4 linked regions of the Homo sapiens genome follow. The protein of the gene in region 3 interacts with the protein of the main gene of each other region in a biochemical or structural test. Each region holds a gene or a part of one and is shown on either strand. Other genes may lie near its edges.

Region 1 (3,500 bases), on a different chromosome or scaffold from region 3:
TCTATGTGGAAATGTTAGTGCCTGCCCTACCTCTTTCACAGACATCTTCCAAAGATCAAAAGAGAACATGTACGTGAAAGTGTTCTATTTGGTAGGGGGAATTCAACCTTGAGGAGGATGAAATGGTTTTGATTTCATAGGATGGAAAGAAAATCTTGAATTAAATCAGATTAGATCTTTGTGGTTTTCTCCTTATATGTTTAGAGGTCTTGGATGGTGGTTTTATTTTTAAATAAAAACCTAACAGTAAAACTAAAGTGAAATAACCTTTAGTTAAAGATATTTATCCAAAAAAGATGTGCTTATTATGTTGAATACAGATGTGTTTATGATGTTAAAGGACAAGAATAGAAGAAATGGACATGACTGACATTGCAGCTTATTCAGCAAAACTCAAATTTAGAATATTGTGACATAAAACCCTGATATTGAGTTTACTGTTCCCTCATCTCCTTCTGACATCATGTTTTCATGGTGCCATTCAAGCCCAAGATTCATTTTTTAAAGTAAGCCTTCAAGGTACATTGCTCACAAACGTAATATCCTCATGAAGTCCCTAAATAAGGATGTAAATGTAATTATTCTTTTAAGGAAACTATCGTGGGAAGGAAATATCTTCAATTCCAGCATAAAATCATCCCTGAATTGAGGATTTTAAAGCTTTTGGAGCCAACACCAATTCACTTGCATCACCAGGCCAGAGTAGAAGGGCTCAAAGCTCTCCTCCCCAAGAGAAAGCCCCTTGGTTTGACTCTGTTCAGGATAAAGTACTGCTGTATAGGCTTCCTTACTTAGTTTATTGCCAATTATGTCAGCTTTTCATATTGATCAAGTAGTCAATATAGGAGGTTGCTTTTACTGAAAGGGAGAGGTAAGCTCTGTCACCACAGTGATCTTACAGATTTTAAGGTGCCACATGTGGTCCAAAATGTAATTTTCTCACTACAATTCTTGCAGTCTGATAATTAATGAAGTCCTACGAATGCACAATGACTAGTGAGTAACCAATACCAGAAGAAGCTGGAGACAGGCACGCACTGACTAGAGCACTAGAATGTGAACACCTGAATACCTTGAAGAATCTGTGATCGTTTTACAGCCCAAGCACAGTATTGTTAGCATTGTTATTCCTGCAGTATTTATCTGCTCTTCTTAATCTTCTTGCTTATTGATTAGTATGGCATGGGGAGCAGCACCAAAGCCTCCTTCACCCCCTTTGTGGACCCCAGAGTATACCAGACGTCTCCCACTGATGAAGATGAAGAGGATGAGGAATCATCAGCCGCAGGTAAGCAAGAAGGGCCCTGTGTTTAAAAAACAGCTTCGTCTTCCTTTCTGGTATGACCTGATAAGGAAATTAATCCTCAGTTCAGTAGTTAAGCTGATTACTGCTTAGGTCCTATCTTAAAAGGAAGACTTTTTAAAATTATTATTTCTGTAGGACTCCTAAAACAAATGTATTACTTTCCATTTTTTTTCCCATCTCTTCTATTTCGTTTCTGGTAGACCCAGGGGTACATAGGGACCCTAGGAAAAGCTGTTCCTCAGTGATCTCTGAACATAACTAAATGTTTCCCCAAAACAATTTCTGGGTACAATGTTTTACACACATTAGGCACTTAATAAGTGTATGGTACATTGTGTTGAGTTCTAGGTGTGTGCTTCCCACCACAAAGATCAGGCTGATTTAAAGGAGTCTTGCTTTCTAATCTTCTTCAAGTAATTAATCATCAAAGTCAGCTTAGGACAGTTTTTCAACTGATAAACTGCAATTTTAAAAAGTAGATCTTTTTTGCCTATATACAAGAGTGGGGATGGTGTATTTAATTTGGGACTTTCTAGACTCTGCAAGTAGTGTCTATAAGCCTGTTTTTCTAATGAATAAAAGATTCCTTTGATGAATGACTTAGACTTTATTCTACTAAAACAAAAAAAAAGTGTAAAATAAGGAGAGTTTCAGAGTTTCCTTGCCTTTACTATAATTCAAACCAAACAAGGAGAAATCATAGTGTTTTGAAGCCCCATCTCCATAAGTTATCTTTTAAGATGTCACTGACTTCTCTGATTCTTTTTCTCAAAGCTCTGTTTACTAGCGAACTTCTTAGGCAAGAACAGGCCAAACTCAATGAAGCAAGAAAGATTTCGGTGGTAAATGTAAACCCAACCAACATTCGGCCTCATAGCGACACACCAGAAATCAGAAAATACAAGAAACGATTCAACTCAGAAATACTTTGTGCAGCTCTGTGGGGTATGTTGGTGCTTTTTTTTTTTTTTTTTTTAAATAACCACTCATTAATGAACTGACCCTCAAACATTAAAAGCCTGTGGATCTTGTCATCAAAAGAACACTGGTTGAATCCTGGGTATTAGAGACCTAACTTGGGACTATCTTGACCTCAGGAGAAACCAAAAGGAGTTTTATATGTAGAAATAGCTGATACGCTACTAGCCAGGAAGACGAGATTAGATTCAGAGCAACCTTGTCACACAATAGTGATAGGCTAAAGCCAACAAGAGAACTAGCTACCACTGAATACATTGAGTGGGCAAAGCAAAGCCTATAATGTGATCAATCAGAGGCGATTTGTGTCTGGCACTTTGTGATATACCCCACGTTCATTCTCCATGATCCATACCACATCCTGCAAGGGGAATATGAGCATAAATAATGGCATAAACCTTTATTTCAAGCTGAAAAATCAGCCCAGAGTATTTTTGTGAATTACTAAAGGTCATAACCCTAGCAATAACAAGATAAAACTTGAAAAGAACAACAAATAATTTAATGAACTTTCCCTTTTAGTTTAAAACATCAATCTGCATTTTCTCGTGAAAAAGATCTGCAGGTTTTAGCTGACCTCAAACTCAGGAGAGGCATGATGAGATTCTATCAAAGTCTTGGTCTGTGTTACTATAAACATCTCATACAGATTAAGGAAGGACATGTCCCCTGTGTACCCACTGAAAATACTAGGCTTGGATTGGGGAACCATAATTTTAAAAGGCTGAAAGCATTTGAGATGTTAGCGGGGAAGAGTGTGAAGCCTAGGAACCATTTCATGATAGAGGCTCTGTCCTCTGGAGAAGAGACAGAAGAGAACAAGATAGCCACATTTAATACTGAAAGGATTAATATATGGACAAAAAAGCAGACATTTGTGTTGATCAGAAGATAGAAGTACAAGACGTAAGAGAAGTTAGAGAGTTACATGTTCATGAATAAAGTACACTGCACAATGAGCCTCTCAATGTGTGTGTGTGTTGAGGGGTGGATGATACATTTCCCTAGCCATAAATTTTTAGGATTACAACTACCCAGACAAAGCCACTTATGTGCCTGTGCTTCTGTAATAGGGATTACTGCATGGGTGTTGGGCTGCACTAGATTTAGAGACCTGAGAAGTCCCTTAAAGTGAGTATGTCTGTGACTCTCCAGCTATTAACACTTCTCTTGAATGGGTTTATCATTTCCCTAAAAAAGAGCAAAAACTTGAGGG
Region 2 (4,186 bases), on a different chromosome or scaffold from region 3:
ATTAATTTTTTTTTTTCTTGACAGAGTTTCACTCTGTCACCCAGGCTGTAGTGCAGTGGCACAATCTCTGCTCACTGCAGTTTCCACCTCCTGGGTTTGAGTGATTTTCCTGCCTCAGCCTCCCAAGTAGCTGGGACTACAGGCACCTACCACCACTTTGTATTTTTTTTTTTTTTTAGTAGAGTTGGGGTTTCACCATGTTGGCCAGGCTGGTCTCAATCTCCTGACTTCAAGTGATCCACCTGCCTGGGTCTCCCAAAGTGCTGAGGTTACAGGCGTGAGCCACCGTGCCTGGTCTTGAATGAGAATGATCCCTCTTCTGGGAAGCCCACTCTGGCATTTGGGGGCCCAATAATCTTTTTTTTTTTTTTGACAGAGTTTTGCTCTTGTTACCCAGGCTGGAGTGCAATGGTGCAATCTCAGCTCACTGCAACCTCCGCCTCCTGGGTTCAAGCAATTCTCCAGCCTCAGCCTTCCGAGTAGCTGGGATTACAGGCGTCCACCACCATGCCCAGCTAATTTTTTTGTGTGTTTTTAGTAGAGATGGGGTTTCATCTTGTTGGCCAGGCTGGTCTAGAACTCCTGACCTCAGGTGATCCGCCTGTCTTGGCCTCTCAAAGTTCTGGGATTACAGAATAATCTTTAGACATTTCTTAATCGAACCACTGTCTTGTTCTTTCACCTTTTGTTAGATAACTATAAAAAAAAAAAAAAGATTGTTTTGGCCGGGTGCGGTGGCTCACGCCTGTAATCCAGAGACCAGCCTGACCAACATAGAGAAACCCTGTCTCTACTAAAAATGCAAAATTAGCCGGGCGTGGTGGCCCATGCCTGTAATCCCAGCTACTCGGGAGGCTGAGGCAGGAGAATCCCTTGAACCCGGGAACTCCGGTGAGCCGAGATCATGCCATTGCACTCCAGCCTGGGCAACAAGACCGAAACTCCGTCTCAAAAAAAAAATTGTTTTAAGGCCCTTTTCTTGCATAAAGCTTGAAACTCCTATATAAGTAAATTTCCTGGTTTGTATTTTTGTAGAATAATCTCGAAGCATACATAGTTCTTATTTGTGGGAAATTAGAATTCTAAGGCCTTTGGACGCTGCAAAGCCAGAATTTCTCGCGTGAAGAACACGCCCTATAGCATCCTCCCCGCCACCTCCACAGCACCCCCTCGTGTTCACAGCATTGACAAGCATGAATAGCGCGGGGCAGGACAAGGACTACATTTCCAATAAAGTCTAGCATTTATAGTGACGTCAGAACGGAGCGCGGGCTGGCTTTCTAGAGCCACAGCTTTTCCATTGGCCAACTATTGGAGGCGCCTGCGCAAATGGTGCAGTCCCGCCCCCTCCACCCTGTGACGCGCCTGCTGGGCCCGAGCTTTTTCCTGGGATAGCGATGGAGACGCCGGGCGCATCAGCGTCGTCCTTGTTGCTTCCCGCCGCGTCCAGGCCCCCGAGGAAGCGCGAGGCGGGAGAGGCTGGGGCTGCGACGAGCAAGCAGCGGGTCCTGGACGAGGAAGAGTATATCGAGGTACGACCTCGGTGCGGACGCCGGCGACTTCTGGGCCCATCCTCTGCTTCAAGCTCCTCTCAGGTTCCCTCTCTCGGGTGTTGACACTCCGTCTCCTCGTGGAAGTGGAGGAGCCGGGTGTGGACGGTCCCACGAGTCAAGTAAACAGGGCAGAGGAAGACGTCTGTGGTGGAAGAGGCTGTAGTAGTGTTGTCAGGGAAAAGAGAGAGCGGCTCTCTTTGTATGGGACGGGGGTCAGGGAAAGAAGATTTTCTGTTAAAGTGTGAGTAGGAGTTTGACAAACTGGAAGGATGGTGGCAAAGAGGGCTTTCTAAAGAGCGGTGGCAGCAAGTGTGAATGCTGGGGTTCCTGGAAAGAGACCGCAGTTGTGACAGCATCTCGAGTGAGTGGACCTGCGTCGCCCCACCACACGCACACAGAAGGAGGAGCTGAAACGGGGATTGGCGGAAGTCAGTTTGGTTTTAGACCTGTTTAATTCGGGACACCTTTTGGGATATGTAGATGGATGGCTTTAACGGACGGTTGGGTGCCCAGATATGCAGCTCGGGAGCAAGGTCTGGCTGGAGGTGCAGACTTGGGAATCTCAACTTGTGGTAGTGACTGGCTGAAGTTACTCAGGAAAAAGGTTTATTTTTATTTTATTTTTTGAGACGGAGTCTCGCTCGTCGTCCAGGCTGGAGTGCAGTGGCGCGATCTCGGCTTACTGTAACCAACCTCTGCCTCCTGGGTTCAAGCCATTCTCCTGCCTCAGCCTGCCGAGTAGCTGTGACTACAGGTGCCCGCCACCACGCCCGGCTAATTTTTGTATTTTTAGTAGTGGTGGGGTTTCACCATGTTGGCCAGGCTGGTCTCGAACTCCTGACCTCAGGTGATCCGCCCGCCTTGGCCTCTCAAAGTGCTGGGATTACAGGCGTGAGCTACCATGCCCCGCCAGGAGAAAGGTTTAGATTGGAAATAGAAAGTCATGTGTGGAATGAAAGTGACAACACCCACATTGGTCTGGCTTGTGGGGAGCCAGCAATGGAGAATGAGAATGACCAGTTAGCAAGGGCGAGAGAGAAGGGTTTCACGGACTTCAGAAGAGTGTTTAGTAATGTTAGAGGTTGCAGCATGGCTACCATATGGGATGCTCAACCCCACTAGAAAGTGCCCTCAAGCTCCCTCAATCCAGCCCCAGTCATTGGGGAAGTAGAATTTGAAGGAGGTTCAGCAAGTTCCTTAGCATGTACAGCAGTGGACCTGTGAGGCAGGAGCACCCAGACTGCAGCTCCGACTTTCTTTTTTCTTTTTTTTTTTTTTTTTTGAGACGGTCTCGCTCTGTCGCCCAGGCTGGAGTGCAGGGGTGTGATCTTGGCTCACTGCAACCTCCGCCTCCCGAGTTTAAGCGATTCTTCTGCTTCAGCCTCCCACGTAGCTGGAATTACAGGTGCCTGCCACCACGCCCGGCTAATTTTTGTATTTCTAGTAGAGACTGGGTTTCACCATGTTGGCCAGGCTGGTCTTGAACTTCTGACCTCATGATCCACCTCCCTTGGCCTCCCAAAGTGTTGGGATTACAGGTGTGAGCCACCGCGCCTGGCCTCTGACTTTCATTCTGATCTCTCCTTGCAGGGCCTCCAGACGGTCATCCAAAGGGATTTCTTTCCTGATGTGGAGAAGCTCCAGGCACAGAAGGAGTACCTGGAAGCCGAGGAGAATGGAGACTTGGAACGGATGCGCCAGATTGCCATCAAGTTTGGCTCTGCCTTGGGCAAGATGTCCCGGGAGCCCCCGCCACCCTGTATGAGGACCCTGTGGGTGGCGGAGAGGGGAAAGCCTGCTGAACTGTCGCTTCAGGCTCACTCTAATTCTTATCCCCCTCTCTTCCCCTAGATGTGACTCCAGCCACATTTGAAACCCCTGAGGTGCATGCAGGCACTGGAGTGGTGGGCAACAAGCCCAGGCCCCGCGGCCGAGGCCTGGAGGATGGTGAGTGAGGGTGCCCTCTTTAAGTCACATGGTCAGGATTGCCTGGGAATCTTAGCCTGTGAGGCCCTGAGGGGGTGGTCCAGAGGGCTGCAGGCCACATCTTGTTCCTGAGGGGTCTTGCGTAAATAGCAGCCTGTGAAGTCAAAGGACATTGGTCTAGGTGGTAGAACATCTGGGTCCAGCTCCCACACATGGCTCGCCTCTGTGAAATGGGACTCTCACCAGCTCTTGCTGGCTTTTCTGCTGTGTTCCAGCCCTGCCCTGTGGGCTTCATGGATGTTGGAAGGCCCCTTTTGTTACTATCCTGAAGATGCCTCAGGGCCTCTCCATTTGTTTCCTTCATGTTGGTCACTTCCCAGATAACTGCATGGCTCACTGTGTTTCTTCCTGTAGATCTCTGCATAGGTGTTACCTGTTCAGAGAAACTTTTCTTGACCTGCCAGTGTGAAGTCACAACACCACTGGTGCTCTGTGGCTTCCAGCCTGGCTTTGGTTTTTCATCACAAGACATTTTATTTTATTTAATTTCATTTTATTTTTAATTTTTTGACACAGAGTCTCGCTCTGTCACCCAGGCTGGAGTAAAATGGTGTGATCCCGGCTCACTGCAACCTCCACCTCCCAGGTTCAAGCAATTCTCCCTGCCTTAGCCTCCCAAATAGCTGGGATTACAGGCGCCTGCCACC
Region 3 (3,500 bases):
GTATTTAGTGGGATGTTTAATGTTATCTATAACTTACTCTGAAATGCATGAAGAAACTAAGACAGACTGATGGATAGACAGATAGGTATGTGATAAAGTAAATCTAGAAAAAAAGCAATTGTGAGTAGTTGATATACAACTGTCCAATGTAAAATTCTTCCAACTTTATTATATGTTAGAAAATTTTCATAATAAAATGTTGAGGAAAAAGTTCATTTGTATTTTGAAACATGATAATATATTAATTTCCATGTCATTAAAAGCAAATTCTTCAAAATGTTCAAGCTGCTTGTTAAATTATACTTCGTCTATACTATAAGTGAAAAAGACATACCACAGATTCCATATCATGAAGGGTTATTGGTTTGTGAAGCATCATCTTGTAAAATGGGCGGATGAAAAAACCTTGCAAAAAACCAAATACATTTAGGATGATTACCAAGTGAAAGAAAACAGGTAATTATATTGTAAAAAGTTTATACTTAATACTAACCATCCAACAGTTTGCCATGATAAACTGCCATTCCAGCTACCCGACCAATAAACTTGAAGTAAGAGAGGTGATCTTCGTTACACAATCCAGAGTTTGGATTTATCTGTAGGGTATAATTGTCCCTGTAAAGACAACCCCATTTAAATACTTCATTTGAAAAACTTTAATATGACAAATAATTACAAATAATCTTCCTCCTTTAAGAGTTGTTTACCACTGTTAGAACCACATTCCTCCACTGGATTTAATGGTTTTAAAAATAGTAATTTCTGTCAAAAAGTGGAAATAACCCAAATGTCCTTTGGCAGATGAATGTATAAACAAAGTTTTGTTTGTTCGTTTGTTTTTGAGATGGAGTCTTGCTCTCGCCCAGGCTGGAGTGCAATGACACGGTCACAGCTCACTGCAACCTCCGCCTCCCAGGTTCAAGTGATTCTCCTGTCTCAGCCTCCCAAGTAGCTGGAATTACAGGCGCCCGCCACCATGCCTGGTTAATTTTTGTATTTTTAGTAGAGACAGGGTTTCACTATGTTGGTCAGGCTGGTCTTGAACTCCTGGCATTGTGATCCACCAGCCTTGGCCTCCCAAAGTGGTGGGATTACAGGCATGAGCCACCACGCCCAGCCTAAACAAAGCATTATATGCAAAAATAATGGAATATTATTCTGCCTTAAAAAGGAAGGACATTCTGATACATACTACAACATGGATGAACCCTGAAGACATCATGTTAAGTGAAATGAGCTGGTCACAAAAAGACAAATATTGAATGATTCCACTTATGTGAGGTACCCGAGGAGTCAAATTCATAGGGACAGAAAGCAGAATGGTGGCTGCCAGGGAATGGGGAGCGAGTGCTTACTGGGTATAGGGTTTCATTTTGGGAAGATGAAAAAGTTCTAGAGTTGGATAGTGGGATGGCAGCACAACAATGTGAATGTATGTAATGACTCTAAATTGTATATTTAAAATGGCTAAAATGGTAACTTTTTTTTTTAGAGGAGTCTTGCTCTGTTGCCCAGGCTGGAGTGCAGTGGCGTGATCTCGGCTCCGCCTTCCGGGTTCACGCCATTCTCCTGCCTCAGCCTCCTGAGTAGCTGGGACTACAGGCGCCCGCCACCACGCCTGGGTAAGTTTTTGTATTTTTAGTAGAGACGGGGTTTCACCGTGTTAGCTAGGATGGTCTCGATATCCTGACCTTGTGATCCGCCCGCCTCGGCCTCCCAAAGTGCTGGGATTACAGGCATGAGCCACTGCACCCGGCCGACTCTTACTTTTAAAACAGTGATTTTTCTTTTTCTGCCGATAATCATTGTAAAGGTACTTACGTAGCAGAATATTCAAACAACCCATAATAAGGGTTAAACATTTCCTTTGAGATCAGGAAGAACCATTCTCTGGCAACTCCTCCATAATCCAATCCCTTTTCACCATCAAACTCAATCCACAGTCGAGCCTTCAGGAAGTCTGCTCTCTTGACACCCATAATTCTCCGGTAAGAGTCTTCAAGAACAGTTGCTCGGCGAAGTTTCATTTCAAATTTGTTTGGAATGTCATTCTGAAAATCCAGAGGAGAGACGTACTGTTTAAATCAGTTCAACATAATAACAAACCCATCTCTCATAAAGTTATAACATTCCCTCTACACCCTGTGTCCAAGTCTCTTTTTCCTTACGTAATATACTCAGGGAAAACACAACTAGGTATATTGTCTTGGTTTCCTCTATGGTATGAGACAGTTTCTGCATTTTCTTTAATCACTTAGTAATATAGACTTCTTTACATCTGAAGAAGCTTTTGTTTTTGGAGACAGCTCTGTAGTCCAGGCTGGAGTGCAGTGGCGTGAACATGGCTTACTGCAGCCTCGACCTCATGGGCTCAAGTGATCCTCTTGCTTCCGATTCCTAAGTAACTGGACCACAGGCGCATGCCATCATGCCTGACTAATTTTTTAAGTTTTTGAGGTCTTGCCATCTTGCCCAGGCTGGTCTCAAACTCCTAAGCTCTAGCAATCCTCCCGCCTTGGCCTCCCAAAGTGCTGAGATTACAGGCATAAGCCATGGCACCCGGCCTAAAGAAGCAATTGATGGTGATGGTAATGCCCCCATGAAGGCATTTCGTTAACAGTCCTTTTCATATTAAGTTCCAATGAACACCGTTCTGTGACCTGTAGGATAGCCACTGCCTGCTAGCTGTTGTGCCTGTCTGTTCAGGCTTTTCCCTACCTCTACTTTCCTCCCTGGAGTCTATCTTGCTTCACTCATTAACAGATGGTGACATTTACAGACTGTGCCAGTGATATATTCTGGCTGTGTCCCTACCCAAATCTAATCTTGAATTGTAACTCCCACAATCTCCATGTGTCATGGGAAGAACCTGGTGGGAGGTGATTGAATTATGGGGGCGGATCTTTCCTGCACTGTTCTCATGATAGTGAATGGGTCTCACGACATCTAATGGTTTCTATGCACAAGCTCTCTCTTTGCCTGCTGCCATCCATGTAAGATGTGACTTGCTCCTCCTTGCCTTCTGCCATGATTGTGAGGCCTCCCTAGCCATGTAGAACTGTAGGTCCAATAAACCTCTTCCTTTTGTAAATTGCCTGGTCTCAGGTATGTCTTTATCAGCAGCATGAAAACGGACTAAAACAGCCAGGCATGGGTACCCTGGAATGGCAGGTTAACGTGTTTAACCTCATAACAACACTATGCGAAAGCTACTATTATTGTCTTCATTTTACACATAAAACTGAAGAAGACGACTTAAGAAAGTCTTAGCTCCTGAGTCTGTGCTCTTAATTAATGGAGCTACATTGCCTCACTAATCTTTTGTACGTTCTTTGCTTATGTGACAAATGTACACAACTATGCTTTAGGCAGAACTTATTGTAAATTTTACAAAAGATATATCTAAATATTTTATTCCTCAGTACTTCATGGGCAAATTTCCAGGGGAAACCAGTAAGAGAAAACATGCCATCAATATTCTGTCACCTCCAAAAAAGAAG
Region 4 (3,500 bases), on a different chromosome or scaffold from region 3:
CTGTGGCATCAAGTACCACACGCATTCATCTGAGAAAGATGCTGCTCTGAGTACAGAAGCACTGCCACCTTCCAAGCTCTGAGTCTGGCAAAGAAAGAAACGGGTAAAGCCAGTGGTAGATTCAAGCCATGGAGCTAATCTAAGGTGAAGTGGGACCCTGAAGTACTATGTGAAAATGAATTTAAACTGCCCCCTAAAGCCCTCTCCCCAACCCCTCCACTGAATGACACAGATCCAGGTAAAACCACTTCTCCAGTGGAGAAACTGTGCAATAAAAAAAGGAAAGTTGCAGCAAGACCTACATCCAGGAATGGCCATGTGACTCAAGACAGACATCAGTTTATGCTACCAACAGCGCTATGCATTGGGAGAGGCTGACCTAGAACTGTATGGATGCCCAATCCCTAGAGAACCTACGTTCGCCCCAACCAAGGGCAGGTCATGGAGGCTGTGGGGTCTACACCGACTCATGAATTGGCTGGGCTGATGAGCACACCTGGCCACCCATCTGCTTTGGAGTCCACGCGCTTCCACTGGACCTTGGATTATCTCTTCTCCAGCAGGGCAGGATGGGTGGTGGGAGGTGGAAGGGCAGTGACCACTACTGTCAATCCTGGAGAGGCACTGGCTTCACAGTGAAAGTTAATAAGGCCCTGAGGCTCCCCAAGATTCTAAAATAAAAAGATTAACCACTGGTTGTTGTTCCTTTTTTTGTTTTGAGACAGTTTCACTCATGTCACCCAGGCTGGAGTGCAGTGGCGTGATCTTGGCTCACCACAACCTCCTCCTCCCAGCTTCAAGCGATTCTCCTGCCTCAGCCCCCGAGTAGCTGGGATTACCGGCGACCGCCACCACACACGGCCTAGGACAGAACATATTTATCTGATAAAAAGAACAACTAGGCCGGGAGCAGTGGCTCACGCCTGTAATCCCAGCACTTTGGGAGGCCAAGGTCGGCGAATCACCTGAGGTCAGGAGTTAAGAGACCAGCCTGGCCAACATGGTAAAACCCGTCTCTACTAAAAATACAAAAAAAGTAGCCGGGCGTGGTGGCAGTCGCCTGTAATCCCAGCTACTAGGGGGCAGAGGCAGGAGAATCGCTTGAAGCTGGGAGGCAGAGGTTGCAGTGAGCTGAGATCGCGCCACTGCCTGGGCACTCTAGCCTGGGCGACATGAGTGAAACTCCGTCTCCAAAAAAAAAAAAAAAGTCCTGTCCTTAAAGAGGTATTTACCCAGAAATGATCAAAGTGCTTTAAGCACATTTCTAAATAAAGGATGATTAAGTGTGGGGTGAGAAGTCATTAATTGGGCCTGAAGGGTCAGGAATTGGATTTCTGGTTACTCTGTCCTAAAATCCTGACTTGGGTTACTGGTATAATCTGCTTTAGGGTGGATTCTCAGCAGAATGGAAAGGCAAATGGGACTTGGAGAGAAAATGGCCTTGAAGCAGTCTCTGTTGCCCTGAAAATCACTTTTCATTTCCAAAACATCACAACTTCCTTTTACTGAAGATCTCTTTAAGATCCAGAAGCAAATAAACACCATATTCTTAAACAGCACAGGTTTCCCAATGTCAGTTATAATATCTGGCCAGGCATGGTGGGTAACACCCATAATCCCAGCACTCTGGGAGGCCAAAGCAGGAGGATCACCTGTAGCCAGGAGTTTGAGACCAACCTGGTGAGGTAGGAGGACTTCTCAAGCCCAGGAGTTCAAGGCTGCAGTGAGCTATGACTGTGCCACTGCACTCCAGCCAGGGTGACAGAGCAAGACCTTGTCTCAACAACAATAAAAAATAATATCTTAGAGATATTATATTTAATGATATACTCCTGTTTCTATTTTAAACAGGGGATTAACAAGACTCTTATCTATGTTCTAAACAAACAAAGACCAAAGACCATTCACTGCCAGGTCTGAGTTCCCCTCTAACGTCATGACTAGGAAACTTGTACACTGATGTTTTTTCTGAAGTTCTGTCTGAACAAAGGCATGGTTCCCCATTCCGTTTTTGGCCTGATTCTTGATGCTGGCACCTAGGCAGAGAATTCAACTTTCCAATGCTAAATGGGAAAAGGCCATTGTGATTCCCTCTTTTTTAAATGAAACAAGAACTTAGAATTTAGGAAGTAAAACTTAGGGACTTGCCTCTGTCTCTATTTATAGAATCAATATTTAATACTAACTACTCTAAATAAAAATCATGACACTTTACATGGTGACCGCCTGTTTTCCACTCCAAGGCAGAAATAACTGAGAACTCACTCCCCTTCAGCCTCAGACATAATTGATCTTCATGCAGACCAGTCAGTCACCGGAGAGGGAGGGCTCCTGCAGGCCTGAATTCGTCCCTTCTCTAATTTCCCCAGCCACTCTTTGAAGCCAGCAAGCACTGCATGAAGGTTAAGGGAGGCTCCATGCTCCCCTAAGGAAGCTGAAAAGACCTGAGGAAGAGGCTGCTAAATTGTCTTGGGGAAGAGATGGTGAAGCTGAATCACAGCCAGCTTTAGGAAGGACCCTGTAGCACTTTTTATGTTTATGGGTGATTTATATATTGCATAAAGCCCAATGATGTCACACGCCTCTTATGTTTAGAAACAAATTTATATTTTTAGCCCGGTGTGGTGACATGCACCTGTGGTCCTGTCCCAGTTATTAGGGAGGCTGAGGTGAGAGGATCACTTGAACCTAGGAGGCAGAGATTGTAGTGAGCTCAGATTGCACCACTGCACTGCAATCTGGGCAACAGAGTGAGACTCTGTCTCAAAAAAAAAATTACTTCTGAGAATAAAACCCCAAAATAAACAGTTGCATTAAGTGTAGGGTGATAAGTCATTAACTGGGGCCAAAGAGCTGACAGCCTGGGCAAAAGGGCCCTAGCTGGTGACTCTAAATCCTGAAGGGTCAGGAGCTGGATTTCTGGCTACTCGGCCCTAAAATCCTGACTTGAGTTACCAGTGTAATCTGCTTTAGGGTTGATTCTCACCACACTGGAAAGGCAAATGGGACTTGGAGAGAAAATGGCTTGAAACAGTCTCTGCTGCCCTGAAAAATCATTTTTCATTTCCAATTCTATTTCTATCTCAGGGATAACGGGGGAGGGGAAGTTGATAAGACCTGTAGCCATTTTAATTGCTAGATTACTGTGGAGCCATCTGAGTAATCTTAAGGTCTCCAGAAGCCTGCTTCATTTCCTTTGAGAAGAACCAGAGAATCAGAATTGAGGAAAATAAACTCAATGCCATAGGTCCTAGTCACTTATTTTCTCCCACTAAGCCAACACCTCCAGGAAGTACAAAACACAGAGTCACCAAGGCTCTGTAGAAGTTGCAGATGTTATGAAAGAAGATTACCTCCCCAAACACGTTAAGGAAAGCCCAGGGTAACCACGGATGCCCAAGGCTTCCTCCCCTGGTGAAGACACAGCCCAGAGGCCTGGGAAGGAAGGTTAGAAGAGCCCCATGGGTGACAAGATCTCCTCAAGCAACACCACAGCTTCC

The links.
Region 1: the proteins of NEDD4 (region 3) and TNIK form a complex in vitro, tested with the Homo sapiens proteins (2 studies listed by BioGRID).
Region 2: the proteins of NEDD4 (region 3) and ESS2 interact in a test that uses a peptide from one of them, tested with the Homo sapiens proteins (2 studies listed by BioGRID and IntAct, with this or other methods).
Region 4: the proteins of NEDD4 (region 3) and GABARAPL2 form a complex in vitro, tested with the Homo sapiens proteins (2 studies listed by BioGRID and IntAct).

What each region holds. Positions count from the first base shown.
Region 1 is NC_000003.12:171,082,906-171,086,405, reverse strand, and holds part of TNIK (TRAF2 and NCK-interacting protein kinase), read left to right. Parts: intron 1-1,176; coding exon 1,177-1,288; intron 1,289-2,080; coding exon 2,081-2,251; intron 2,252-3,500. UniProt on the Homo sapiens protein: Serine/threonine kinase that acts as an essential activator of the Wnt signaling pathway. Recruited to promoters of Wnt target genes and required to activate their expression. May act by phosphorylating TCF4/TCF7L2.
Region 2 is NC_000022.11:19,141,852-19,146,037, reverse strand, and holds the start of ESS2 (splicing factor ESS-2 homolog), read left to right. Parts: upstream 1-1,386; 5' UTR 1,387-1,397; coding exon 1,398-1,532; intron 1,533-1,545; exon of another isoform or gene 1,546-1,914; intron 1,915-3,143; coding exon 3,144-3,312; intron 3,313-3,404; coding exon 3,405-3,500; intron 3,501-4,186. UniProt on the Homo sapiens protein: May be involved in pre-mRNA splicing.
Region 3 is NC_000015.10:55,840,113-55,843,612, forward strand, and holds part of NEDD4 (E3 ubiquitin-protein ligase NEDD4), read right to left. Parts: intron 2,052-3,500; coding exon 1,822-2,051; intron 616-1,821; coding exon 494-615; intron 406-493; coding exon 335-405; intron 1-334. UniProt on the Homo sapiens protein: E3 ubiquitin-protein ligase which accepts ubiquitin from an E2 ubiquitin-conjugating enzyme in the form of a thioester and then directly transfers the ubiquitin to targeted substrates. Specifically ubiquitinates 'Lys-63' in target proteins.
Region 4 is NC_000016.10:75,569,379-75,572,878, reverse strand, and holds part of GABARAPL2 (gamma-aminobutyric acid receptor-associated protein-like 2), read right to left. Parts: intron 1-3,500. UniProt on the Homo sapiens protein: Ubiquitin-like modifier involved in intra-Golgi traffic. Modulates intra-Golgi transport through coupling between NSF activity and SNAREs activation. It first stimulates the ATPase activity of NSF which in turn stimulates the association with GOSR1.